Linked DNA regions of Homo sapiens. The protein of the gene in region 1 purifies or fractionates together with the protein of each later gene. This does not show direct contact. Each region holds a gene or a part of one and is shown in the gene's direction. Other genes may lie near its edges. The genes, in order: SLC27A5, SPTLC2, TMEM201, NUP155, ADCY3, SEC24B and GRAMD1A.

Region 1 (4,078 bases):
GTCTCGAACTCCTGACCTCGTGATCCGCCCGCCTCGGCCTCCCAAAGTGCTGGGATTACAGGTGTGAACTACCGTGCCCGGCCAAATGTTTTTTTTTTTTTTTTTGAGTCGGGGTTTCACTATTGTTGCCCAGGATGGAATGCAATGGCGCGATGTCGGCTCACTGCAACCTCTGCCTCCTGGGTTCAAGCGATTCTCCTGCCTCAGCATCCCAAGTAGCTGGGATTACAGGCATGTGCCCTCACGACCGGCTAATTTTTTTTTATGTTTTTAGTAGAGATGGGGTTTCTCCATGTTGGTCAGGCTTGTCTCAAACTCCCGACCTCAGGTGATCCGCCCACCTCAGCCTCGCAAAGTGCTGGGATTACAGGCGTGAGCCACTGCGCCCGGCCAAATTGTTTTTTTAATTATGAAAAGTTTAGGCTGTGCCCAGTGGTTTACGCCTGTAATCCCAGCACTTTGGGAGGATGAGTCTGGTGGATCACCTGAGGTCAGGAGTTCAAGATCAGCCTGGCTAACATGGCAAAATCCGTCTCTACCTAAAATACAAAAATTACCGGGGCATGGTGGCTCACGCCTGTAATCCCAGCACTTTGGGAGGCTGAGGCCGGCGGAACACCTGAAGTCAGGAGTTTGAGACCAGCCTGGCCAACATGGTGAAACCCTGTCTCTACTGAAAATACAAAATTAGCTGGGTATGGTGGTGGGCGCCTGTATTTCCAGCTACCAGGGAGGCTGAGGCAGGAGAATCGCTTGAACCCGGGGCGCAGGGGTTGCAGTGAGCCGAGATCTAGCCATTGCATTCCAGCCTGTGCAAAAAGCGAGACTCTGTCTCAAAAAAAAAAAAAAAAAAAAGTGAAAATAGTTTGATGACATCTCAGGTATCTTCACCCAGCTTCAATAATTGTTAACATGCTGCCAGTTTAATTTCTTTTTTTTTTTTTCTTTGAGATGGAGTCTCGCTCTGTCGCCCAGGCTGGAGTGCAGTGGCGCAATCTCTGCTCACGGCAAGCTCCGCCTCCTGGGTTCATGCCATTCTCCTGCCTAAGTCTCCGGAGTAGCTGGGACTACAAGTGACCGCCACCACGCCTGGCTATTTTTTTTGTATTTTTAGTAGAGACAGGGTTTCACGGTGTTCACCAGGATGGTCTCAATCTCCTGACCTCGTGATCCGCCCGCCTCGGCCTCCCAAAGTGCTGGGATTACAGGCATGAGCCACCGCGCCCAGGGCCAGTTTAATTTCACATGTACTTCCCTGTTTCTTTTTTGTTTGTTTGTTTGTTTTTGAGACAGAGTCTCGCTCTGTCGCCCAGGCTGGAGTGCAGTGGCACCATCTTGGGTCACCGCAAGCTCCGCCCCGCCCGCCCCCCCCCCCCCCCCAGGGTTCAATCAGTTTTCTGCCTCAGCCTCCTGAATAGCTGGGATTACAGGCACGCACCGCCACAAGCGGCTAATTTTTGTATTTTTAGTAGAGACAGGGTTTCGCCATGTTGGCCAGGCTGGTCTCAAACTCCTGACCTCAGGTGATCCACCTGCCTCGGCCTCCCAAAGTGCTGGGATTACAGGCGTGAGCCACCGTGCCCAGCCACTTCCCTATTTTTTTCCAGAATATATCAGAGCAAATCCTAGACACTGCATCTTTATGCTTGTAAATATTGCAGTACATATCTCTAACATATAAGCACTGAAGAAACTGTAACCAAAGTGATTATTACACGTAACAACATTAATATCATATGATGTCCTTAATATCATATGATGTAACCCCTTAATATCATATGATGTCCAGTCTATGTTCAGATTTCTCCAATGGGCTGTTTTGGTTTGGTTTTGTTTTTAGAGACAGAGTCTTGCTTTGTCACCCAGGCTGGAGTACAGTTGTGTGATGTTGGCTCACTACAACCTCTGCCTCCTGGGTTCAAACGATTCTCATGCCTCATCCTCCTGAGCAGTTGTGATTACAGGTGTGGACCACCATGCCCAGCTAATTTTTTTGTATTTTTAGTAAAGACAGGGTTTCGCCCTGTTGGCCAGTCTGGTCTTGAACTTCTGGCCTCAAGTGATCTGAACACGTTGGCCTCCCAAAGTGCTGAGATTACAGGTGTGAGCTACTGTGCCCAGCCAATTGGCTGTTTTTTTGTTTGTTTGTTTGTTTGTTTGTTTTTAACAATTAAACAGTCTCCCCATTGTATTTGCTTGTAGGTCTCTGTTCCCCTTTCATCTGCATTTCTTGTTAAATTGGAAACTTTAACTAGAGGTGTTGTTAGATTCAGTTTTTTTCTTTTTCTTTTGAGACAGGGTCTCACTCTGTCACCCAGGCTGGAGTGCAGTGGTGTAAGCTCGGCTCACTACAGCCTCCCCCTCCTGGGTTCAAGCGATTCTTCCACCTCAGCCTCCCGAGTAGCTGGGACTACAGGTGTGCGCCACCACGCCTGGCTAATTTTTGCATTTTTTGGTAGAGATAGGGTTTCACCATGTTGGCTAGGCTGGTCTCAAACTCCTGATCTTTCAGGTGATCCACCCCCCTCAGCCTCCCAAAGTGTTGGGATAACAGGTGTGAGCCACCACGCCCAGCCCCCTATATCTTATTAATCCATGTGTCCATACGTCAATACAACCATACAAACATTCACCAACCCACCCATCTACCTACTCACCTACTTCCTCACTCATTCATTCATTCATCCACCCACCCATCTATCCATCCTTACACCTATCCATCTTTCTCTTTTTCTTTTTTTTTTTTTTTAAGACAGAGTCTCACTCTGTCGCCCAGGCTGGAGTGCAGTGGCGCTATCTCGGCTCACTGCAAGCTCCGCCTCCCAGGTTCACGCCATTCTCCTGCCTCAGCCTCCCGAGTAGCTGGGACTACAGGCGCCCGCTACCACGCCCAGCTAATTTTTTGTATTTTCAGTAGAGACGGGTTTCACCGTGTTAGCCAGGATGGTCTTGATCTCCTGACCTCGTGATCCGCCCACCTCGGCCTCCCTAAGTCCTGGGATTACAGGCGTGACGATCCTCACCCAGCCACCTATCCATCTTTCTACCCCCCTGCCTCTGCATGTCACTGTCCAGCCATCCATCTACTCACTCACTACTCTAACTGTCCACCCATCCATCTACTCACTCACTACTCTAACTGTCCAGCCATCCATCTACTCACTCACTACTCTAACTGTCCACCCATCCATCTACTCACTCACTACTCTAACTGTCCACCCATCCATCTACTCACTCACTACTCTAACTGTCCACCCATCCATCTACTCACTCACTACTCTAACTGTTCACCCATCCATCTTCTCACTCACTACTCTGTCCACACATCCATCTTCTCACTCACTACTCTGTCCACCCATCCATCTACTCACTCACTACTCTAACTGTCCACCCATCCATCCACTCACTCACTACTCTAACTGTTCACCCATCCATCTTCTCACTCACTACTGTAACTGTTCACCCATCCATCTACTCACTCACTACTCTGTTCACCCATCCATCTTCTCACTCACTACTCTAACTGTCCACACATCCATCTTCTCACTCACTACTCTGTCCACCCATCCATCTACTCACTCACTACTCTAACTGTCCACCCATCCATCCACTCACTCACTACTCTAACTGTTCACCCATCCATCTTCTCACTCACTACTCTAACTGTTCACCCATCCATCTACTCACTCACTACTCTGTCACCCATCCATCTACTCACTCACTACTCTAACTGTCCACCCATCCATCTACTCACTCACTACTCTAACTGTTCACCCATCCATCTACTCACTCACTACTCTGTCCACCCACCCATCTACTCACTCACTACTCTAACTGTCCATCCATTCATCTTTCCATCCATCCACCATATCCATCCACCTGCCCACCCATCTGCTTAGCTGGGCATTCATTTATCGTAATCAAGAGTGATTTGAGCTTCGAGTCAGTGACAAGCCAAAATAAAAATTAAAAATGTGGCTGGGCACAGAGGCTCATGCCTGTAATCACAGCACTTTGGAGGCCGAGGCGGGTGGATCACCTGAAAGGTCAGGAGTTCAAGACCAGCCTGGCCAACATG
Region 2 (4,078 bases), on another chromosome or scaffold:
AGGTCAGGAGATCGAGACCATCCTGGCCAACATGGTGAAACCCCGTCTCTACTAAAAATACGAAAATCATCTGGGTGTGGTGGTGCACACCTGTAATCCCAGCTGCTCGGGAGGCTGAGGCAGGAGAATTGCTAGAATCTGGGAGGTGGAGGTTATGGTGAGCCAAGATCGTGCCACTGCACTGCAGCCTGGCGACAAAGCGAGAGACTCAAAAAAAAACCCACATAATTTAGTAGACAAAATTAACTAAAAGTTAGAATGTGTTATTTAGACAAGATACAGATGTGGAGTAAGGCCACAGGGCCTCCAATTTGGCTTACGATAGGGGTGGGGGATTGTTAAATACGAATTGTGTGGTCTGAGTAATCAGCTGAAGCCAGCGGGTGAACTGGCCTGACAGACACCAAAGGAAGCCCTGAATTCTGAAGCAGTGTTGTTCCCAAGACAATTAAAGAAACGTGTGATCTGGAGAGCTCATGCCAGTCAGCCATTCTGCTAGCAGAAAAGATGTGCCGTGTTACAGCAGATCCCCCACAGCTGCAGAATCCTCAGAATTTGCGGATTAATGTTAAACTGCCAAGCTTAACATTTCAAGGACCAGATTTTAATTAAATACAGGTTCATTTTGAAGCCTCTGAACCACTATTACATATCAGGGACACTTTTTTTTTTTTTTGAGACAGAGCCTTGCTCTGTTGCTCAGGCTGGAGTACAGTCGTGTGATCTTGCCTTACTACAGCTTCTGCCTCCAAGCTTCGAGAGATTCTCATGCCTCAGCCTCCTGAGTAGCTGGGACTACAGGTGCATGCCACCACACATAGCTAATTTTTTGTATTTTTGGTAGAGACGGGATTTCACCATGTTGCCCAGGCTGGTTATTTCAGTTTTGTGAAGGACACCATATAGGAGAAGACTGCTTTAGGATTGACTTTAAAAGTATTTGTGAGCTGTCAATTTTAACTTTAAAAGGAGTTAAAGGAAACTCCTATTAGAAGTCTCCAATGCCTGCATCACCAAAGAGTTGAAATCTTTGAGGACAGCAGGTCCTCTGTAATGAGTGCTTTTTCACTCCTCCTGGTTTCTGTTCTTGTTTTCCCCTTTGCAGCGCCTTTGGACGGGAGATGCTGAAGCGGAACATCGGTGTCGTTGTGGTTGGATTTCCTGCCACCCCAATTATTGAGTCCAGAGCCAGGTTTTGCCTGTCAGCAGCTCATACCAAAGAAATACTTGATACTGTAAGTAGGCACTTTCACCTTGATATAAATATGCCTTTTATTAAAAGGGCCTGTATATTAGATGAAATTCATAATATATTGATCTTGATGTTCTTGTGAGCACCTAAGACAGAGGGGGTGACAGTGCTACCAAAAACATTGGCATTTACAAAAAAACTGTCACCCACCACACCTGCATCATGAGAGCTCTGGAGAATTTTCCGGCTTTGTCTTGCTCTACTGTCTCCCTCACTATGGACTCTACAATTCTCTTTCCACTCTAGCTATTTCTACATTAAGCTTTCTCATATGTTGTTCTGTCTAAAATTTTCTCTCTTGAGCTTTCTCTCCCCTCTGCCTGGCTGACTGCCACTCATTCTTCACATCTCCATTTAAAGGAAAATTGCTCAGGGGCGCCCCACACCTTCTTGCTCTGTGTTCCCTTGGAATCCTGAGATTCTCCCTTACTAAATTCTTCACACCTATAATTATTTAATAGCAGTCTTCTCCATTAGATAAATATTGAGGATAGGAATAAGTCTGTTTTACTGATTCTATATCCCAGCACCCACCACACTGCCAGGCATCTAGTTGGGGATCATTATTACTAAGCTTAATTATTTATTATCTCAAGATATTCTCATCTCTATATATTCTCTTAATATGTTATTGTTGCAAGTCTAAGATTTCAGAGTTTAAATCATTATTGCCATCTGGGAGTTTATAAAGCTTTAGAACATGACATTTGCATAAAATTAGTTGCTAGAAATATCCATTAATGAGTTAGAGAGCTACTAATTTTTTTTTTCTTTTTTGAGAGAGAGTTTTGCCCTTGTTGCCCAGGCTGGAGTGCAATGGCGTGATCTCAGCTCACCACATCCTCTGCCTCCTGGGTTCAAGCAATTCTGCCTCAGCCCCCTGAGTAGCTGGGATTACAGGCATGCGCCACCATGCCCAGCTAGTTTTGTATTTTTAGTAGAGTCAGGGTTTCTCCATGTTGGTCAGGCTGGTCTCGAACTCCCGACCTCAGGTGATCCGCCTGCCTCAGCCTCCCAAAGTGCTGGGATTGCAGGCGTGAGCCACTGCCTGGCAAGAGCTACTAATCCTAAAGAACATTATGAATGCTTCTTTATAAAAGTTAATTATAACAATTTGATGGACATTTTGTATTCCTGAATAGCCGAAGACTTGACTTTTCTTCTCTGTTTCTACACAGCAAAATTTCTATGAGTATAAGTGTATTCCCTTTTAAAAAACAAAATTGTAGTAAGAACACTTAACATGAGATCTGTCCTCTTAACAAATTTTTCCATGTCGAATACAGTATTGTTAACTATAGGCACAGTGTTGTGAGCATATTCTTAATTACATTCTGACAATATCCAATTAGATTCAACTTTTTGATATTGTATCTTTTTTTTCTTTATTTTGATTATGCCTGTCAGATTTTTCCAATGGATTTTTCTCATTTCTCAGAAATTTTACTGGTGAATTTCTGTGATGATTTTTTTTAACCTAGAGATTTCAGCTTTTCTTTCCTTCCTACTCTATTGATGTTTTAAGAATTTTCTTTTTTCTTTCTCATGTTCACCTGTTAACTCAGAATTTCAATGTGCCTTTAAAAAAAAGTCTGTGTAACTATAACCAGTGTCTATGGCAGTAATCCATGCCTTCTGACCACAACTTTGACTTCTGAGAACTGTACACATTCATGAAAGAATTTAGATGTAACCAGGATATCTCCTTAGGATATCTAAGGAGATTTCTGTTGCCAACAAGTATGTTTGCCAACTGAGAGTTCTAATCCTTTTCATAAGATTCTCTTGAGGGATTGTTGGGCTTTGCCTCCCATTTAGTTTTTTAAAGCATAAAGTGCATTTTTTGAAACCATGGATTTGTTAAAGTCATTTTGTCTTATGATGTTTTATGGAACTAAACGTGTACTAGACCATTATGAGATACAAATTAATTTTCATTTAATAATGGGCCTCATGACATGATTCTGTATATAGAAAGTGCTGTAAAATACACACACACACATGCGCGCGCGCGCACACACACACACACACAGCTAGAGCTCATAAATGAATTCATCAAAGTTGCAGGGTAAAAGATCAGCACACAAAAAATTAGTGCTTTTATACACCAGCAATGAACAAATGAAAAGAAAATTTCTTTTACAATTTTCAAAAGAAGAAAATACCTAGTAATAAACTTAAGAAAGCCTTTCCTGGCTGGGTGCGGTGGCTCACACCTGTAATCCCAGCACTTTGGGAGGTCAGGCGTTTGAGATCAGCCTTGCCAACACAGTGAAACCTCATCTCTACTGAAAATACAAAAAATTAGCCAGGCATGGTGGGGGGCACCTGTAATCCCAGCTACTCGGGAGACTGAGGCGGAAGAACCACTTGAATCTGGGAGGCGGAGGTTGCAGTGAGCTGAGATCGCACCACTGCACTCCAGCCCGGGCGACAGTGCGAGACTCTGTCTCAAAAAAAAAAAAAAAAAAAAAAAAAGCCTTTCCCTTGTACACTGGCTAATTTACACTTGTACACTGTATTTTTAGATGTGTATATTGAAAACTATAAAACTTTGCTGAAAGAAATTACAGAAGACTTAAAGAAATGGAATGACATCCTGTGTTCATGGATTGGAAGATTTAATATTGTTAAGATGGCAGTATAGCAACCTACAGATCCTGTGTTCAGCATTTCTCAGAAAAAAATGGACTGGGAGACCCTAAGCCACTGGCCCTTTTTTGCAGAAATTAAAAGGCTGATCCTCAAATGTATATGGAACTGGCAGGGAATAGCTAAAATAGTACTGAAAAGGAAAAGCAAAGTGGGAGGACTCACACTTCTTAA
Region 3 (4,078 bases), on another chromosome or scaffold:
CCCTGTGCCAGGTGGCCAGGAGATTCAGCCTTTAAGCACTGAGGCAGCCCCGGGTGGTGTGAGCAGGAGCTGGGAGGAGTGGGGATGCACTGGCAAGACCCAGCCACTCCTGCTAGAGCCCACCCTTTGGGGCCAGGAGCTGCGTGGCCCAGCTGACCACCTCATACCCACAGCCCACTAGGACCCTCCTTTCACACATCCCCCAACGGTACTCTCAGGTCACTGGGGGACCTGGTCACCCTTGGCTGACTCTTGGCTATGTCTGTGCTGCCGGGCAGGGTGGGCACAGGAAGCCTAGCGCAGAGCCCTGCCCCACAAACTCCCTCCCATGGAGGGTCATGCCCCAAGGTCCCAGCAACACCTTCACTGCCCCTGCCTAAAGGTGCCCTCAGGGTCATTCCCTGAAGTCGCTGCGCTGTCCCGCCAAATGGAATCAGAATTCTAACATGACGACACAAAACCTCATCTTCTGTGTAGAGGTGGAGCCTTCCCTGGAGTCTTGGGGGCAAGCAGCGGGCGCTGGGCCTGGGAATCACAGGTCAGCAGGCGGAACAAGGATGTGTCCAGTCCGGCTGACCGGGGCCTTCCCCAGGGTCCCCAGCTCAGCTCCTGCCTTGATGCCCACATTCGCCAAACATGGCCTCGCCTTTGGTTCTGAAGTCCAGGTGGTCTCCTGGCACCTTGGAAGGCATTAGAAAGGTTACATGATTCTCCGGGAAGTCAAGAGCTGGCCCCACACTTTCCTTATAAAACTTTTTTAGAGGGAAAGTAGCAGGGAGGTTGGTGGCGCGCGGCTTGGCTAGCGATCCCCGAGCATGCAGTCATGCTGGGCGCAGGTCCCTTAAGCAGCCCCCGGCTCCTGCAGGGCGTGGGCCAGCCTGCCCGCTCACCAGCACGTTGTCCACTGGGCTCATTTGTCCCTTGGCACCGAGGTAAGGCTGGACCCCCGGAGCTCCGTCCAGACGGTGGACTAATGTATTAACTGCCTCTGTCCCTCTCTTCCCTCTGTAATTGGGTGCCTTAATCAGAAGCATGGTTGACGTTCTGGCGTGGGGCCATCAGGTCCTGTTGTGTGATTTGTACCATCTCGAGTTAAAGAGACACTGTCACCTTCCGTCTTTCGGGCAGCCTTGCGGTCGTGGATGGGTCTCTTCTAAGTTCGGTTTTGGCGTTGTCCTGTGAGAGCCTCTTCCAGGGGGTTCCAAGGCCTGGCTGCCCCCCAGTTCTGCTCTACCAGGAACTTCAGAGGAGTTTCCAGAGTGCAAGGCCAGAGAGCAGGAGGCAGCCTTCTAAGGGCAGAGCTGTGGGAGGACTTCCAGGAATCACACCTGGGAACAGAGGGTGCCCAGAGCCGTGCTGGGGCCTGACTTCCTATGATCCAGGCCCATCTGGGAGATGAGCCAGGATGTCCCTGAGCCCGGCCGCTCTGTGGGAAGGCTCGGCACAGAACAAGAAGTGGCAAGGAGTCCAAGTCCATTAACCTTCATTGAGTGCCTGGCACGGGGCTGGGCATTTTTGCTTCAAGGCGAAAGGGTTGGCATGAGGTTGGCAAAGGCGACAGTGTCACTTTAATACCGAGACTCGTAGTGGAGATAGTTTGCTGTGAGCCGAGGGGGTAGGAGGGGGCATGTGGGGAGGGCCGGGTCTTGCTGGCACCTCCCAGCCACCCGCTCCTAATGGCGTGAATGTGGTCGGATTGCTTTTCTGCTTTAACTAACGCACGCCTCCTCTGGGACCCCAGCTGAGGCCCCCACCTTGCACTGTGGGAGAGGGGTGGGACCCACTGCAAGGCTGCCTCCAGGACCTCCCGCTGACCCTCTTCTTGTCCCGTGCCTGACGGGCCCTTGCAGGTTCTTCCCAGGAGACTCTGCCGGCCTTTTCCCCACCAGCCCCAGCTTGGCCATCCCTCACCCGAGTGTCGGAGGCTCTCCAGCGTCTCTGTTCATCCCCAGCCCGCCCAGCTTCCTGCCCCTCGCCAACCAGCAGCTCTTCCGGTCTCCTCGACGGACCTCACCCTCCTCATTGCCTGGCCGCCTCAGCCGGGCCCTCTCTCTGGGAACCATACCCTCTCTGACTCGAGCAGGTAAGGGGTGCCCAGGCATTGGCAGACAGTCAGGGCTAGGGGCAGCTGGGACAGAACTGTGGATGGGTACATAGTGTAGGGAGGGCCGGGAGTGGTTAGTGTTCCTGCTGCAGAGACAGGCAGCACAGAGCTTTGAGCCTCAGTTCCCCCCAAAGAAATGGGGCTAGCTAGGAATAGGTGGCTCATGCCTTTAATCCCAGCACTTTAGGAGGCCAAGGTGGGAGGATGGCTTGAGGCTAGGAGTTCAAGACCAGCCTGGGCAACATAGGGAGACGCTGTCTCTACAAAAAAAGTTGTTTTAATTAACTGGGCATGGTGGCGTACACCTATAGTCCCAGCTATTTAGGCTGAGGTGGGAGGATCGGTTGAACCCAGGAGTTGGAAGCTGCAGTGAGCTATGATCACGCCACTGCATTCCACCATGGGCAACAGAGCAAGACCCTGTCTCAACAAAAATAAAAATAAAGTGCCCAGAATTGCCATATCATCTGGGAGCCCCAGCACGGCCCCTTAGTCCCAGCTCTGGTGACATGACCTTGGGTAAATGTGTGCACCGTGCTGTGCCCTAATCTTTTCCTCTAAAATTGCAACATGCCCCTCAGCAAAGGGGGCCACTCTAGTTATTCTAGGGGAGGAGATGCTGATAACAGCCAAGGCCCCTCTCCTCTCGTGCAGTTACAGGGCAGGCCATTTTGTACACACGCCAAGGTTTATATTAGGATGCTTTTGCTTTTCCCCTAAGCAGAGATACCCCCCTATTTTCAGGGCACCCCAGCCTGGTGGCACTTGAATGGAACTTGGGGTGGGAGGTGCCAGGAGCAGCCCTGCCCTGGGCCTGAGCACTCCGAGTAAACTCTGTGCGCACTGACCAAGGTGGCAGAGCTCAGGGACTTCTGTTTCAAGCCCCTTGGGAGGGGAGCGTGGCAATCCCAGGGCCAGTTCAGGCCTCCAAGGCAGGGGCTCCTGCCCACAGAGAAGAACAGGCAATCTCCCTGTTAAGGCTCAAGGCAGGGACACAGTAGCGACCTGTCTGAGGTAGCAGCAGAGGTCTTGGGGCGCAAGCTTGTCTTGGAGTGTCCGGTGACAGATGGGACCCCAGTCTCCATTACCAGAGTGGGTCGGGGGGAGGAGCCCGGTCTCCATCGCCAGAGGGTGGGTCGGGGGCAGGAGTTCCTGCAGGGCTTTGGCTCATGTATTCAGAGACGCGCTGGACCGGGCTCAGGTGCTGTGGCCAGAATCCAGCTTGCTGTCTCCCTGTCTGTCCTCAGTCCGCTTCTCTGCCACACACCTCATCCCTGTGTCCTGCAGCCCATGCCCAGCAGGAAGACGGCCTCTCCCAGCATCCATAGAATGGATTCTAGAAGGACCCTGGTTGGCATGCTGGGTCCTTGTGACCACCCTTATCCAGCCTATCCCCTGGCCTGGTGAGGGGAGGGTTATCTGCATGCTGCAACAGACCCTTCAGAGCCCACAGGTGGCAACAGGACATGAGGCAGTCCCTGGGTCCCACATTCAGCTCTCAGCCAGCCACTTGGAATTGGGGCCCCTGCCCTTGGGGTGCGTGCGCCTGATTTAGGAAAAGGCAGCGTGGTTGGTGATCCCTGGGATCGAGAGAACAGGCAGTTGGGGTCTGCAATTAGTGGAGAAAGTGGGACTAGATGGCTGGAAAAGCAGGCCCTTCTGTGGGAAGAAGGGCATGGAACGAGGAGTGGACAATATGCCCAGTGCCGACTCTTCTCACCACCTGCTGTGAGCCTCAAGTTTCTTCCTGACCTCGTGATCTGATCTGCCTACCTCAGCCTCCCAAAGTGCTGGGATTACAGGCATGAGCCACTGCGCCCAGCCCAAGCCTCAGTTTCTTTATCTGCAAAAAGGGAACGTGCCCAGCAGCCCTCAGACAGCAGTCCGAGGAATCCGTGAGCACCTGTGTTTCCATGAAAGCACATTTGTAAAGAGCAAAGGCTGGATTGGGATTTCGGCAGAGCATTTGTGGGG
Region 4 (4,078 bases), on another chromosome or scaffold:
ACAAAAGTTTGTTTCTTATTCACAAAAATCCAAGGTGAGTCTTCCTGATTGGCAGCTGGCTTTCCTCCGTGTGGTTGATTTAGGAACCCAAGTTCTATTTTCTGGCACTACCATTCCCTAGGGCCTCTGCTTTATCTTCAGCAGAGGGTGGAAGGAAAAGAAAGAACACATTCACTGTCTTAAAAACTATAGCCCTGACATGACACACTACTTCTACTCACATTCCTTTGAAGAGAACTTGGTTGTATGGCCATACCTCCCCTACAGAGGAGGCTGAGCTGTATAGTCTAACCATTTGGCTACAGTCTTGGAAGGTATAAGTATTGGGCAGCAAGGAGTCTGCCACAGTATACTTCCTGTGAAATCTATTATGTTTAGTTGATGTCTGTTATGATAATATTAGCCTATTATGATAGAAATCTTCATTTATACATTATTTTAGCAAACTTAAAGTCAGATAGTAGGATCCGTTCTTTCAAACGTATGTTGATTTATCATAAATAAATTAAGACATCCTGTTTTCTGCCCAAACTAGGTTGCTAGGATCCAACTTCAGATACAGGAGACACTACAAAGGCAGTATTCCCATCATTCTTCTGTACAGGATGCAGTTTCTCAGCTGGATTCTGAGCTGATGGACATAACTAAGGTAATAAAAAAGCAAGTGAAATTTTTATAGTAGTTACCTAATAATGAGAAATTTTTGTTTTTTATTTTGCTTTTTGTTTCATGGGGAAAATTACCTTATCTCCACAAATAAGATAAGGCATCTTTGGCAGCTTGTCACTGGGCTGACAGATCACCACTGCTTCATCTGACTCCTAGAAAAAGGCTAAGCTACTCTTTCCAGGCCAGTAGCTACAAAGAACCTATCATCCTCGCATGAGAGCTGTGTTAAAACCAGCTTATTTCCAGCCTGGGCAACATGGCAAAACCTCATCTTTACAAAAAAATAGCAAAAAAGGCCAGGCACTGTGGCTCACGCCTGTAATCCAACACTTTGGGAGGCTGAGGCGGGCAGATCACCTGAGGTCAGGAGTTTGAGACCAGCCTGGTCAACATGGGGAAACTCTGTCTCTACTAAAAATACAAAAATTAGCCAGGCGTGGTGGCATGCGCCTGTAATCCCAGCTACCTGGGAGGCTGAGGCAGGAGAATTGCTTGAACCCAGGAGGTGGGGGTTTCAGTGAGCCGAGATCATGGCACTGCAGTCTAGGAGCCTGGGCGACAGAGCAAGACTCCATCAAAAAAAAAAAAAAAAAATTAGCCAGGTGTGGTGGTGTGTGGTTGTAGTTCATCTACTCAGGAGTCTGAGGTGGGAGGATTGATTTAGCCCAGGAGGCCCAGGTTGTGGTGAGCCTCGATGGTGCTACTGCATTCCAGCCTGAGTGACAGAGTGAGACCCTGTCTCAAAAAGAAAAAAAAACTAAAAAACCAAAACCATCTTATTTATGGCCTCGCTTCTTGCCTTGGAAAAACTAACTTATCTTTGCTTAACTCTCTAAACCTCTTTCTCTCTCTGTAATTTTCTGAGCAGTTCCTTCCTCTTCATTTATTCTTAGACATAGTTCCAGGTACCCTGAAACACTTTGAGATTTGTCAGTATTCCTGTGATTCTTCAACCCATTGTTTATACAACACTAGTTCTAAAATACCATTGCAGGAGGTTTGTAGGGAAGGTGGGGATGGTTAATGGGTACAAAAACAAAATGAATAAGACCTATCTGATAGCACAATAGGGTGACTATAGTCAATAATAACTGTATATTTTAAAATAGAGAATGTAATTGGATTATTTGTAACTCAAAAGGATAACTGCTTGAGGAATAGACATTCTCCATGACATGCTTATTTCTCATTGCATGACTGTATCAGAACATCTCATGTACCCCATAAATACATACACCTACTGTGTACCCACAGAAATTTGAAAAAATGAATTTTAAAATTAATAAATAGAATGTCGTTGCAACATCTTCTTCCCAGCCAAGAAAAAAGCTCTACATGCTAAAATGTGTTTGAATGTATTTACCATACCCTTACCCTTTTTTTTTTTTTTTGGCGGGGGGAGACAGAGTCTTTCTCTGTCACCAGGCTAGAGTGCAATGGCGTGATCTCAGCTGACTGCAACCTCCACCTTCCTCAGCCTCCTGAGTAGCTGGGACTACAGCCATGCACCACCATGCCCAGCTAATTTTTTTTTTTTTTAAATTTTAGTAGAGACGGGGTTTCACCATATTGGCCAGGATGGTCTCCATCTCCCGATCTCGTGATCCGCCCACCTTGGCCTCTTAAAGTGCTGGGATTACAGGCCTGAGTCACCGTACCCGGCCCATACCCTTAACTTTTTAAATATGGAGTTATAACCAGCTACATACATCATCACATCTTTATATCATATTTCAGAAACTTTATGTAAAATCTTTGGTTATTTTTTAATTTTCAAGGAGTGCTTCACTATTAATCTCTGAATGTTGATCTCTAGTTGGATGTTAATTTTGGGATTTTCTCTCACAGCTTTATGGGGAATTTGCTGACCCATTTAAACTTGCAGAGTGCAAACTTGCAATAATTCATTGTGCCGGTTATTCAGACCCTATATTGGTGCAGACACTTTGGCAAGATATCATAGAGAAAGGTAAGTGTTCAGTTATAGGTATGTTAGCATACGTTATGTAGTGACTTGGTGGAGGAATGCAAGCTGCTAGTAACTAATATAATGCAAGCTGCTAGTGGCTCATGAAAATTGTGTATACCTAAGAAGAGAGTAAGTGGAAGTCACCTGGGTATGGTGGAGGATGATCATACACAGAATGACCCAAGTGAATATTCGGGAGAATACTCAGTGAAAAGGTTATTTAATTTATATTATTTGTGCTGCCTTATAAAAGATACTGAGACACTCACCTCAGAATCTAATAACCAGTATAACCTGGTAAGACATGAGAGTATCTCAGACAATAACAGAAACACCAAATCTGTTAATCATATTAATGTGACTATCTGTTCTAAAGTATTTTGAACCTTGAAACAGAATTAAATAACCAATGTAAACATTTCACATTAAAAGTAATTTGGGTTTCAAATGACATGTCTTTTTGTTACAGAATTGAGTGACAGTGTGACATTGAGCTCCTCGGATAGAATGCATGCTCTTAGTCTCAAGATTGTTCTCCTTGGCAAAATTTATGCTGGCACACCACGCTTCTTTCCTTTAGGTAAGCTGTGATCTTAGGTGCAGTCACGTATTTTCTGTTCTGATGGTTTTCTCCGTTGATATGGACAAATAACGATCTTTCGAGTAAAATAAAGAGTTTCTTTGCTATTTAGTTCAGCACTTTAATTCTGCCTCTCCGGAAAGACTTCCAAAGAATGGCAGAATTTGTTAATGAAGAGTTGAGTATGAAACTTTCTGTGACTAACTTTCCAAGTTTATATTACCTGTCTTAGGATTGTGCTGACTGACAAACTATGATTATATTGTTGGTAACCCTATACAAGTTTCTGAAGAGAAAAGAAAAACGGTTGATGTTTTTGTGCATAGGTAATCTGTGATTGATTCAACTGTTCTTTTTTTATGTTGAGGGCATGTTTTTCTTTAAAATAGCAAATAATTATGTTAAAACTTAGTGTTTGAATCCCTTTCTTAATGAGATATGGTGGCTATAATTTTTAAATAAGGTAGCTAATTATGAGCTATTTGCCAACCTACAAGTGTTTTCCTCAGTGGTAAAACAATAGAAGCAACATAAATACATCCATAAATTAGAATATCAACTACTTTTGTGTTATTTAAAAATATTGAGAGACATGAAAATCCTCACAATATAACTTTTTTTTTTTTTTTTGAGACAGAGGCTTTCTCTGTCGCCCAGGCTGGAGTGGAATGATGCCATCTCGGCTCACTGCAACTTCTGCCTTCCAGGTTCAAGCAGTTCTCCTGCCTAGCCTCCCAAGTAGGTGGGATTACAGGTGCCTGCAACCACGCCTGGCTAATTTTCTGTATTTTTATTAGAAATGAGGTTTCCCCATGTTGTCTAGGCTGGTCTCAAACTCCTGGCCTCAGGTGATCCGCTTG
Region 5 (4,078 bases), on another chromosome or scaffold:
TGCCCAGCCTGCCAGCCTCGTGCCAATGATGGTCAAGAGAGGCTCCCCCACTTCCTGCCCCTGCAGTGCTCTGTCTGGTAGAGATGTCTTAACTCCCACGCCAGCTCTGTTCTGTGGTTAGTGGGGCTGGGGTAGAGTCAGCTCTGAAGCGGTGACCTTCTGGGTGTCAGGAGAGGCAGGGCGTGCCCAGAATCCTTGCTGACTGACGTGAGCCTCTAGCAGCCATGGAGGTCAGTGCCTGGGTCCTGGAGACCAGGTGCTATGTGCAGGCCCAGGGTGGACAGACAGAATCTTCCACTCCTCTGCTGATTTCTCCACTCATGTCTCATCCTGCTGATTTGTTCTAGAAATGGGTAGAGGATGTTAACATAGGCAGGGCCTGGCAGGGCATCTAGCCCAGACTACCCATTTTACAGAGGAGGAAACAGAGATGAGTGATAACTGGTTCACTGTCACCCAGCACTTTGGTGGCAGAAACAGGACGGGAGCCCAGGCATTGACCCCCAGCCCAGGGCTCATTTGTGTATGTTCCTTGGAGCACTGAGAGCTGCCTGAGAGCAGGAGCTTTGCTTCCCACCCCACCTCCTGGAGACAGTGGCTATGTGCTGCCCTGCCGTCCCCACCCCAAATCTCTGTAGAGGGGGCTGTGAGTTTCTGGTCATTGACTAGGTGGAAACACCAGTCATATCTCTTCAGGCCATGCATTAGCCAGTCCCAGGTTCTTTTTTTTTTTGAGACGGAGTCTTGCTTTGTTGCCAGGCTGGAGTGCAATGGCGCGATCTCAGCTCACTGCAACCTCCGCCTCCCAGGTTCAAGCTATTCTTCTGCCTTAGCCTCCTGAGTAGCTGCGATGACAGGCACGCGCCTCCACGCCTGGCTAATTTTTGTATTTTTAGTAGAGACAAGGTTTCACCATGTTGGCCAGGATAGTCTCGATCTCTTGACCTCATAATCCGCCCGCCTCGGCCTCCCAAAGTGCTGGGATTACAGGCGTGAGCCACCATGCCCAGGCATCCCAGGTTCTAAGGTCTGAGGTCTGAGGATGACTGGTCTCTCTAGCTCCATCTCCTCAGGTGGACAAGGAGCTTATTTTGAGGCTCCTGGAGCTTCCAGGGAAAAGGACTGAGAAGGTATGGCCACAGGGCTGGGCCGGGGCCTGGGTGCCCCACCACGTGGCTACTCGGAGATCACTTCTAAACTCATGATTGTTCTCCTTTGAGTATTGCTAAGACATAAAACCCTAAAACTTAGAAAACAGAAAAAAAAAGATAGAAATCAAGAATAAAAATATTAGCATCCCAGGGGAGCCTGACCTTGGCATGCAAGCAGTGCCTGGGAGGCAGCTTTGGGAACAGAGCAGGAGGGGCAGAGAGCTCTCAAGGTCCGATTGGGAGCCTGAGATCGAAGGCAGGAGGCCCCAGCTTACAGTGGGCTGTGTTCCAGAAGCTTCTGAGTCACTGGTTTGGGACTAATGTGACTTTTTAAAAGGTGCCTGGGTTCCCAGGCCCACCCACCAGGGTCTTCCTCAACTCACAGCATCCCGGCATTTGGCCTCTGAAGATGGTGGAAATGGGGCCGGGCATGGTGGCTCATGCCTGTAATCCCAGAACTTTGGCAGGCTGAGGCGGGCGGATCACCTGAGGTCAGGAGTTCAAGACCAGCCTGGCCAACATGGCGAAACCGCATCTCTACTAAAAATACAAAAATTAGCCAGGTGTGATGGGGCGTGCTTATAATCCCAGCTACACAGGAGACTGAGGCAGGAGAATCACTTGAACCTAGGAGGCAGAGATTGTAGTGAGCCGAGATCGCACCACTGCACTCCAGCCTGGGCGACAGAGTGAGACTCCATCAAACAAAAACAAAAACAACAAAAAACACAAGCTGCAGCAGCCTGTGTTGCTGTGGGGAGGGACACCCGGGACAGCGGTCTCCCCTGAGCCCTGGAGTGAGGTGTCATTCATCTCCCCTGCTGCCGTTGCCTCCTGGGATGTGGGCCCCATCAAGGATCGGGGGCAAGGGCTGGAGGACAGGATGCAAGAACCAGGGGACCAGGCCCCTTCTGGTCAGGGTAGGTCCCAGAACTTTCTCCAGACCCCAGGCACCGCCTTTCTCCTACCCATGTGCTTGCCCTTGTCTTTCTCTCTCCCATCCCCTGTCGGCTCTGGCTGGGGACTCCCTCCAGGGTCAGTGGGGGATGAACGCAGTTTCCCAGTTCGAAATAGACACCTGGATTTCTGGGTTCTTGTGAGTTTTGTGGTTTTGTTGCTGCTGTCACTGGCAGCATGAAGAAGCATTGCCAGTGTCAAAAGTCTTCTTCCTCTGCAGCCCTTATCCCCCCATGCCCATGCGCAGCTCTGTGGGGAAGGACAGAAGGTACACATGGGGCTGTTGGCAGCCTGAGAGGTCAGAGGCCAGCCAGACAACCTGTCCTGGGCTCCTCGCAGGAGGCCAGTGGGTGGGGTTCTGACAGGAAGAGCAGGTGATCAGGGAGTGTGGGATGGGGTGGGGCTGGGGCCCCACCAATGAGTTAATGAGTGAATATTGCCGAGCAGCATGGGCCTTGCAGCCTGCAAGGTCAGGGGATAAGGAGGATGAGGCCATCTGACACTCAGGCTGTGCTGGGGCGGGGAGGATGTTCTGAGAGCCACCTTGGGTGGGCAGAGACCTAGCCAATGGTTCTCACGACCCATCCTCTAGCCCCTGCCTGTCCCCCATTCCTTTTTTTTTTTTTTTTTGAGACAGAGTTTCATTCTTATTTCTGAGGCTGGAGTGCAATGGCACAGTCTTGGCTCACTGCAACCTCCTCCTCCCGGGTTCAAGTGATTCTGCTGCCTCAGCCTCCCAAGTACCTGGGATTACAGGTGGCCGCCACCACGTCTGGCTAATTTTTTTGTATTTCTAGTAGAGACAGGATTTCACCATGTTGGCCAGGCTGGCCTCGAACTCCTGACCTCAGATAATCCGCCTGCCTTAGCCTCCCAAAGTGCTGGGATTACAGGTGTGAGCCGCTGTCCAGAGGAGGGAACAGAGGACGAAACAGAGATGGGTGATAACTGGTTCACTGTCACCCATCACTTTGGTGGCAGAAACAGGACGGGAGCCCAGGCGTTGACTCCCAGCCCAGGGCTCATTTGTCTGTGTTCCATGGAGCACTGATTGCTGCTCCATGGGTCCCCCATCCCAAGAGGCAACACAGGCCCAGAGCAGCCGGAAGGGAGGACAGATGGATCAGGAGGAGCCGAGGCTGGCAGTGTTTGCCCATTTCGCTCCCCTGGCCTGGGTCCTGCCCCAGGACCTGTTACGGAATTACTTGCCCTTTACTGCCCTAAACTGCCCCTGGGCTGGGTGAGGAGGAAGGAGGGGACTGGGCTCAGGACCAGGACCTGCAGGACCAGCGGCCAATGAGTGCGGACAATGGGGAAGGCAGCCAGGATGGTTGGGGGTGGTGGTGGGCGGGGCGTGCCTTTAGCATTTGGCAAAGTAGGGACTAGGAACTGCTGACAAATATTTTGTACCCTTACTTCAGAGCAGAAAGGCTATTTGGGAGCAAAATTCTCTCATGGAATGAAGAGCCTGTTAAGACCTTTTTTCACCAAGTAAAACATGAGGAAGCTGTGGATGTGCAGTTTCTTTCACACCTGCAAATTACACAGCAATCATTCACCCAGCAAAGGAACATTTGCTCCTAGGGGCTGGAGGGAGCTGCCGTAGGGAGGGTGAGAGGAAACTGAGGCTTCCAGAGACACCCTGTCTGCAGACGGCAGGTAGCTGTTGCATGCACCTCATCCCATTTAATCCTGGATGTTACTGGCTCCATTTCACAGATAAGGGGACTGAGGCTCAGTGAGGTTGAGAGGAGGTAGTGGGGCTGGATTACAGGGGAGGGGTCACTGATGAGTGAGAAAGGTGGGTTGGGGGACTTCCCTGAAAGCCTCTCTTTCTCTGGAACCCAGGCATCTGGGCCTCCTACTTTTCTGGCTGCCCCCAAATGTCTTTGCTAAGCAACGTAGCTGAACAGTGCCAAGAGATGGCAGTCCCTAAGGTATAACAGGAGGCACCCCCTTCTCCCCATGGG
Region 6 (4,078 bases), on another chromosome or scaffold:
CAGTAACCTGGGGGAAATACTTACAGCACATAACATTAGGCTAATTTTCTACTGTGTGAGAACAGCTAGAAATCATTAAGGAAATCGCAATGCTACAGAAAAAGCAAACAGCAGAGAAAGACACCCAAATGAGAGTCTCAGCATCATTCAAAGTTAACTACTGTAAACTAAAGTGTTTCTCACTTTTCAGATTGGCAGAGATTAATATATAGTCAGTATTGGGACAATGAGGCAATATGAAGCATTATTGATGGGAGGTATAAATTGATAGACCTTTTAAGAGATATTTGCCAATAATGTCAATTTTAAAAACATAAACCTTTTGAACTTCCAGTTTGACTTCTAGAAATTTGTCTTATAGCTTCATCATAAAAGTTGACCTCATAAATATAGATTAGTTCAACCCCAAGATATTCATCAATGGAGATTTGGTGAATAATGTTATATCTCTACAATAAAGTACTATATGTAAATTTTTAAAAGAATAATGAGGATTTATATATGCTAATACTTAAGGATATTCAGCATATATTAAGTAAAAGCAAGTTGCGGAACTGTAATATCCTTTTTGTGTGTTTAAAAAATCAAGTAAATTATATACATGCTTACATATGCATTACATAGATACATGGATATACAGAGGATGCATAAGCATTAACTGTAACTATATCTGGGAAATAGGATATAAGCTACTAGGCAGAGATTTTTAATTCATACTCTTTATTGTTTGAATTTTTTCTACAGTGGGTATATTGTTACTTTTCTAGTTAGGAAAAATAAAAACTGAGAAAAAAGTTTTAGCTGTGTGCAGTGGCTCATGCCTATAATCCCAGCATTTTGGGAGGTTGAGGGAGGAGAGTCACTTGACTCTAGGAGTTTAAGACCAGCCTGGGCACACAGTGAGACCCTGTCTCTACAAGAAAATAAATTTAGAAACATTGGCTGGGCCGTGGTGTATGGGAGACCAGCCTGGGCAACACAGTGAGAGCCTGTCTCTGTAAAAAATAAATAAGTAAAAATTAGCTGGTCACCATGGTGCACGCCTGTGGTCCCAGCTGCTCGGGAGGCTGAGGTGAGAAGATTGCTTGAGCCCAGGAGAACAAGGCTGTAGTGAACCATGATCATGCCATCGCGCTCTATAGCCATCACACTCTATAGAGCCTGGGGTCAGAGCGAGACCCTGTCTCAAAGTTTAAACTTCTTCCAGGATGGGTATATTAGTTACTGATAGCTGCATAACAAAATACCCCCTAAGCTTAACAACTTGTAAAACAACAACTATTTATTTCACAGTTTCTCAGGAAGATAAACTTGGGAGCAGCCTAGCTAGGTGGTTCTGGCTCAGGGTCTCTCATGAGATAACCTGTTGGCTGGGCTATAGTTATCTCAAGATTCTACTGAGTTTGGAGGATCTGCCTGAAAGCTCAGTCGTGGTTGTTGGCAGATCTTAGTTTCTCTTTGGCTGTTGGCCAGAGAGTTAAGTTCCTCCTTGCATGGGCTTCTTCATAGGGCTGTTCACGGCTTGGCAGGTTAGCTTCTTTCAGACTGGGGTATCTGAGAGAAAGAGAGCCAGAGCTCAAGACTGGGCTAACATGGAAGTGACATATCATCACCTTTGCCGTATGCTACTGTTCATACAGACCAGTCCTGGTACATTGTGAGGGAGGACTACAAGGGTGTGAATAACAGGAGGTGGGGATCATTGGGGGCCATGTTGGAGGCAGGCTACCATAATGGGTCTATAACAGTGTATACCTTTTGTAATAAGTTGGGATTATGGAAAAGAAAGTTAATTGCTTCAATATTTAAATGGGGGCTATTTTTAAAAATTAGTTATCTCTTTACAAATACCTGTAAATACTTGCTTTTTCAGGTCCAGCCCAGAATCAAATGCAGGTTCCATCTGGATATGGATTGCATCATCAAAACTATATTGCTCCCTCAGGACATTACTCTCAAGGACCTGGGAAAATGACCTCATTGCCATTGGATACCCAGTGTGGTGATTACTACTCTGCTCTCTATACAGTACCAACACAAAATGTGACTCCTAACACAGTGAACCAGCAACCAGGAGCACAGCAGTTGTACAGCAGGGGTCCTCCTGCCCCTCATATTGTGGGATCCACTCTAGGATCTTTCCAAGGTGCTGCATCGTCAGCATCCCATTTGCATACGAGTGCCTCCCAACCATACTCCTCTTTTGTGAATCACTACAATAGTCCAGCCATGTACTCTGCCAGCTCTTCTGTTGCGTCTCAGGGATTTCCCTCTACTTGTGGTCATTATGCTATGTCAACTGTTTCTAATGCCGCGTATCCTAGTGTTTCATATCCCTCTCTGCCTGCTGGTGATACATATGGGCAAATGTTTACCTCACAGAATGCTCCGACTGTTAGGCCAGTTAAAGATAATTCATTCTCTGGTCAAAATACAGCTATCAGCCATCCATCGCCACTTCCACCTCTACCATCACAACAGCACCACCAGCAGCAAAGTCTTTCAGGATACAGTACTCTAACGTGGTCATCTCCAGGCCTTCCATCGACTCAAGACAATCTCATCCGAAACCACACAGGATCCCTGGCTGTAGCGAACAACAACCCAACCATTACTGGTAGGTTGAATGAAAAGTTCACCAAAACATGTTTGAAAATCAGTGCATTCCCAATTAAGTTATTATTTACATGAAGGTTAGAGGTGATATTGCCTAATAGAAAAACTGGAAGTTTGCTAATTTATTGTGGCTTTTTGTAGCACCTCTTTGAACCCTTTCTTCTCATCCATTCCCAATTAGCCACCCAACCATCTGCCTTGTCTAGCTTGGTTCCTTGCCATGATCAGTCAACATTTATTGATATATTTTATACATCTGCAATAGTTGTCTTTAATGTGAATTAGATACAGGGCAAAATGGAAGGGTCTGTTTTGAGGATATGTTGGCCACTATTTTCTCTTTTATACTAGTTCAACCTTGGGACAGTTGTTTTTTTAGCCAGAGCCCCACTTACTTAGAAAAAAGGATGGTTTGCAGCAGTGCACTGGTTTCCCCAAGTTAGCCCCTATTAGTGACTTTTGCAGAAGACATCTTTCCTGCACGTAAACAGTGTTTCTCATTTTCAGATTAGTAAGTTAGGCTGAAAGATGGGGAAGGGAAAGGAAGATGCATGAAGAATACCCTGGTATTCAGCCCTTCTGACCTTCCTAAACCAAGGTGTTGTTAAATTTTTTCATTTAAAAATTATGTATGTAAGACGTGGCTTGCCCTTTTTTTTTTTTTTTGACACAGGGTCTCACTTTATCACCCAGGCTGGGCATGATCTCAGCTCACGGCAGCCTTGACCTCCTGGGCTCAAGCGATCCTCCCATCTCAGCCCCACAAGTAGCTGGGACTACCAGGCATACGCCACCACACCCAGCTAATTTTGTAGAGATGGGGTTTTGCCATGTTGCCCAAGCTGGTCTCGAACACGCGAGCTACTGTGCCTGGCCCAATGTGGCTTTTTAAGTGCAGTGTTTCCTTTCCCTAGGATATATTCATTTTAATTCAATTTGTGACTTGAATTTAACAGAATCTGCTTTTGAACCGAATGAAAATGCATGTAAAAAATGGGAATTGGTAAAGCTGTGGTAACTTTTGGAATGATGCCTTTAGATTGTGTATCATTATCTGGATAGCCATGTGTCAAAGATGCTGTGGAAAGATATCCTTCTCTGGACAATGAGATTATTTAAAATTAGAACTTTAATATTAGACCCAAGCTGTACATTTGAGATCATCTACTCTTTCATTGCTATGTCGTTTAGAAATGCTTTCAGATACAAGCAGCTAATAGTAGTTTAAACAAAAAGGGGGTATTTTCCTCACATCACAAGTCTAGGTGGATGCAGTGGATCCCGCTGTTCTTGGTATCCTTTTTTCTCTTTCCACTCTGCCACCTGCAGCATGTAGGTTATAGAAACAAGATACTTCTGTACCTATAGACATTAAGTCAGAATTAAAAGCACCAAGAAGGGAGAGGAAAGGGGACTGGTTAGTGGCATTGACAGACTTCATTTTACAGATCATTTGCCATAG
Region 7 (4,078 bases), about 23 Mb from region 1:
AAAAAAATGCTCCTGAGGCCTCCCCAGAAGCCGAGCAGATGTCGGCATCATGCTTCCTATACAGCCTGTGGAACTGTGAACCCATTAAACCTCTTTTCTTTATAAGTTACTGAGCCTCAGGTATTTATAGTAATGTAAGAATGGCCTAATACAGAGCTCCTCAGCCTGACACGCCAGCCCTTTTAGGACATAAGCATAGTTTTGGGGGCCTTGTAGCCCCCCAACACAAGGCACCATCTTCCTGACTGCAGGGGATACTGCATGTCTCATCAATACAGAAAAAGAAACAAAGAGAAACTCCCATCTGACACGCTCCTCCCCTGCTTGAATCTCTTTTGTAGCCTCCCAAGTTCCTTGGCTGGTCCCATGTCAACCCTTCAGCCTCACCCAGAGCTGTGGCTGCCCCTCTCCATACCTGGCTGCCCCATCCCAGCCTCAGGGGACTTCTCTCAATATTGGCCTCCAGCCTCAGGGCCTTTACTGGTATCACGCGGCCTCCTGGGCTCCTCTGCCCCGACCCCTTCCTTCCTCAGTTCCTCCTTCAGGCCTTGGTTTTGATTTCACATCCTCCTGGCAGCCTTCCCTTACCTTCCTCAGATCCCAGATACCCCCAGATACTCACAGCTTCTGCCCTTAACTCACACCATGCCAGTAGTGTGTGGTTTTTATTTATAGATATTTCCTGTTGTTCTCAAGAGATTCTGGGTGCTAAGGACAGGAGTTCATCTATCCTGGTCTCCCACTGGCCTCCAAGCCCTGCATAGGCCTGACAGAGTGGACATTAAATTTGTGATCATTAACACATATTTATTTATTTATTTATTTATTTTTGAGTCAGGTTCTTGCTGTCGCCCCAGCTGGAATGCAGTGGCACAGTCTTGAGTCACTGTAGCCTCTGCCTTCTGGGTTTAAGCCATTCTCCTGCCTCAGCCTCCTGAGTAGCCGGGATTATAGGCGCCCACCGTCACGCCCAGCTAATTTTTGTATTTTTAGTAGAGACGGGGTTTCACCGTGTTGGCCAGGCTGGTTTCAAACTCTTGACCTCAGGTGATCCTCCTGCCTCGGCCTCCCAAATTTCCCGAAGTGCTGGGATTACAGGCGTGAGCCACTGTGCCCGGCTGCCTCAGGGAGCTTTTGATCATGCTGAAAGGCAAAGGGGGAGCAAGTGAGAGAGAGTGGAGGGGAGGTGCCACACACTTAAATGACCAGATCTCGGAAGAACTCACTATCATGAAGACAGCAGCAAACCATGAGGGATCCGCCCCCATGATCCAAACACCTCTCACCAGGCCCTACCTCCGGCATTGGGGATTACAATTCAACATGAGATTTGGGTGGGGACAAATATCCAAACTATACCAAACTCAGACTCTGTTCTAGGGGTACTGGGGAGCCATGGAGTGTTCTAGGCAGAGAAGGGATAGAGTCAGGCTTGGCTTTAACAAGATGCCCCTGGACCAGATGGGGAGACTGAGGCCAGACACTCAAGGGAAGGCTGGCAGGGGCACTGGGCAGGCAAAGATGGGCTGAACCAGGAGTGACGCTCAGGAGGTTTGGTGAACACACAGTGTAGGTAACCATCTAGGGGTTTGAGTAGGGGGTGTCCAGGGCAAGGCCTACCGCTCCAGTGGGAGCCTGGAGGACCCTGGGCCACCCCTGAGTGGGGGCCTGGGAGATGCAGCAGGTTTGGGGAGATGCTGAGGCTGTGTGGAGCTCGGTGGGTTCGAGGGGTCCAGGGACCTTCCAGGGGAAGGTGTTCAAAAGATTACAGGTCCAATGCTCAGGGCAGAAGCCAAGACGGGTGCAGAGGGGGAAACTGAGGCTGCAGCAGTGGAGGAGATGGCCCTGCCCCAACAGCTAAGGTTTTAGGCTCCTGGAAGGAAGGTGGGGACACAGAGGAGTGGTGGGGATTGGGACAGGTCCCCAGAGAGACCTCCCAGAAGGCTGAGTCTCCTGTGGCCTGTGGGCAAAGGACTGGGGTGTGGCCTCCTCATGCTGCTCCTCCCTCCTCTAGACGTGACGCTGAGCCCCTGGAGTGGGGACAGCAAGTGCCACCAGCGCCGGGTGCTGACGTACACCATCCCCATCAGCAACCCACTGGGCCCCAAGAGCGCCTCCGTGGTGGAGACACAGGTGGGCCAGGTGGGGCAGCCGAGTGGGTGGGGCAGCTGGGTGAGTGGGGTGGCCCTGACTTCTCCGGCTCTGTCCCTGCAGACGCTGTTCCGGCGCGGCCCCCAGGCCGGCGGGTGTGTGGTGGACTCCGAGGTGCTGACGCAGGGCATCCCCTACCAGGACTACTTCTACACTGCCCACCGCTACTGCATCCTGGGTCTGGCCCGGAACAAGGCGCGGCTCCGGTGAGTGGTGGCTGGGCCCCTCCACCCGATGCCCTGGTGGCCCCAGGGCCTCCTGTCCACTCCTCAAGTCAGCAGCAGAGCCTTGGTTCCCACCCTGGTGGAGGAACAGAAGCGTGGGGTTCCTGAGGCCCTTGTCCTCCGAATAGTGGAGGGTAGAGGAAGAGTGGCCCTGGGATGGCTCCTCCCATCTACAGAGGGTGTTTGAGCCTCAAGACTCTGAGGATACAGCAAAGCCAGGCAATATCACCTCTCTCAGGGAGCTCATATTCTAGTGGGGAATTGGACAATAGAGAAATGATCAGGAAAATCTGCAGAACATTCACTGGCAGTTAGGCCTATGGAGAAAAATGAGGAAAACACGGCAGGCTAAAGAAGCAGGGTGTGGAGGCTTTTACACCCGACACGCTGGTCAGGGAAGGGCCTACTGGGAAAGAAATGTTTCACCAAGAACCTGAAGGAGCTGAGAGCAACTCATTTGGGACAGCAGGTGCAAAGGCCCTGAGGCAGGGGTGTGGGCAATGGCTGGAGTGGAGTAAGATTGAGTGAGTAGGAGCTGAGATTAAAGTGGTGAACCGGGGCCCGGCACAGTGGCTCACACCTGTAATCCCAGCACTTTGGGAGGCTGAGGCAGGAGTATCACTTGAGCCCAGGAGTTCAAGAGTAGCCTGGGTAACGTACGGAAGCCCTGTCTCTACAAAAACAATTTTTTTTAAATTAGCCAGGGTCCAGGTGCAGTGGCTTACGCCTGTAATCCCAGCAATTTGGGAGGCTGAGGTGGGCGGATCACTTGAGGTCAGGGGTTCGAGACCAGCCTGGCCAACATGGTGAAACCCATCTCTACTAAAAATACAAAAATTAGTCGGGGGTAGTGATGCACGTCTGTAATCCCTACTACTTGGGAGGCTAAGGCACAAGAATCACTTGAACCTAGGAGGTGGAGGTTGCAGTGAGCCGAGATCGGGCCACTGCACTTCAGCCTGGGTGACAGAGTGAAACTCTGTCTCAAACAAACAAACAAACAAACAAAAAACAAGTTAAAAAATTAGCCAGACATGGTGGAGATTTCAGTGAGCCATGATCACACCGTTGCACTTCAGCCTGGGCGACAGAGCAAGACCCTGTCTCAAAAAAAAAAAAAAAAAAAAAAAGGTGAACCAGATGTGGCTCATGGTGAAGACTTGACTTTACCTGGAGTGAGGTGCAACCAGGCCAGGGCTCTGAGCCAGGAGGGCGCTGACCTGACTCAGGTGGTCCCAGGCTCCTTCTGGCTCCCTCTGTTCTGGTGGGAACAGACTGCAAAGACAGGTACAGGAGCAGGGAGGCCAGGGAGGAGGCTGCTGGGACATCCAGGCTGGAGGGGACGGAGGCTGAATCAGGGTGAGGAAATGGAGGGGGAAGAGTTTAGATTCTGGAGAGATTTTGCAGGTTTAGCTGACAGGATTTGCTGAGAGATTGGATGTGGCGGTGAGGGAAAGAGAGCTCAAGGAATATCCCGAGGCATTTGGCCCAAATCACTACAACTTCGGAGCTGCCCTTGACCCAGATGGGGGCGGCAGGGAGGAATGGGTTTGGGGAAAGACCAGGAGGTCAGTTTGGGACTCAGCTGTCTATGTTGAGCTGAGCCCATGTGGAGCTGGGGTGCAGCAGCCGAATGGAAGAGGTTCAGGGGCATGGTCTGGTTAAGACGTCAGTCTGTGAGTAGACAGGGCTCAGGCCGCCGG

The links.
Region 2: the proteins of SLC27A5 (region 1) and SPTLC2 purify together in Homo sapiens (affinity purification with mass spectrometry; one large-scale study listed by BioGRID and IntAct). This does not show direct contact.
Region 3: the proteins of SLC27A5 (region 1) and TMEM201 purify together in Homo sapiens (affinity purification with mass spectrometry; one large-scale study listed by BioGRID and IntAct). This does not show direct contact.
Region 4: the proteins of SLC27A5 (region 1) and NUP155 purify together in Homo sapiens (affinity purification with mass spectrometry; one large-scale study listed by BioGRID and IntAct). This does not show direct contact.
Region 5: the proteins of SLC27A5 (region 1) and ADCY3 purify together in Homo sapiens (affinity purification with mass spectrometry; one large-scale study listed by BioGRID and IntAct). This does not show direct contact.
Region 6: the proteins of SLC27A5 (region 1) and SEC24B purify together in Homo sapiens (affinity purification with mass spectrometry; one large-scale study listed by BioGRID and IntAct). This does not show direct contact.
Region 7: the proteins of SLC27A5 (region 1) and GRAMD1A purify together in Homo sapiens (affinity purification with mass spectrometry; one large-scale study listed by BioGRID and IntAct). This does not show direct contact.

Annotation. Positions count from the first base shown.
Region 1 is NC_000019.10:58,501,876-58,505,953, reverse strand, and holds part of SLC27A5 (long-chain fatty acid transport protein 5), read left to right. Parts: intron 1-4,078. UniProt on the Homo sapiens protein: May mediate the import of long-chain fatty acids (LCFA) by facilitating their transport across cell membranes. Also catalyzes the ATP-dependent formation of fatty acyl-CoA using LCFA and very-long-chain fatty acids (VLCFA) as substrates.
Region 2 is NC_000014.9:77,515,195-77,519,272, reverse strand, and holds part of SPTLC2 (serine palmitoyltransferase 2), read left to right. Parts: intron 1-1,105; coding exon 1,106-1,235; intron 1,236-4,078. UniProt on the Homo sapiens protein: Component of the serine palmitoyltransferase multisubunit enzyme (SPT) that catalyzes the initial and rate-limiting step in sphingolipid biosynthesis by condensing L-serine and activated acyl-CoA (most commonly palmitoyl-CoA) to form long-chain bases.
Region 3 is NC_000001.11:9,605,707-9,609,784, forward strand, and holds part of TMEM201 (transmembrane protein 201), read left to right. Parts: intron 1-1,850; coding exon 1,851-2,083; intron 2,084-4,078. UniProt on the Homo sapiens protein: Critical regulator of angiogenesis and endothelial cell (EC) migration. Promotes the migration of endothelial cells, which is essential for angiogenesis.
Region 4 is NC_000005.10:37,298,008-37,302,085, reverse strand, and holds part of NUP155 (nuclear pore complex protein Nup155), read left to right. Parts: intron 1-535; coding exon 536-649; intron 650-2,517; coding exon 2,518-2,638; intron 2,639-3,107; coding exon 3,108-3,218; intron 3,219-4,078.
Region 5 is NC_000002.12:24,913,336-24,917,413, reverse strand, and holds part of ADCY3 (adenylate cyclase type 3), read left to right. Parts: intron 1-4,078.
Region 6 is NC_000004.12:109,461,028-109,465,105, forward strand, and holds part of SEC24B (protein transport protein Sec24B), read left to right. Parts: intron 1-1,873; coding exon 1,874-2,617; intron 2,618-4,078. UniProt on the Homo sapiens protein: Component of the coat protein complex II (COPII) which promotes the formation of transport vesicles from the endoplasmic reticulum (ER).
Region 7 is NC_000019.10:35,017,177-35,021,254, forward strand, and holds part of GRAMD1A (protein Aster-A), read left to right. Parts: intron 1-2,014; coding exon 2,015-2,133; intron 2,134-2,214; coding exon 2,215-2,357; intron 2,358-4,078. UniProt on the Homo sapiens protein: Cholesterol transporter that mediates non-vesicular transport of cholesterol from the plasma membrane (PM) to the endoplasmic reticulum (ER).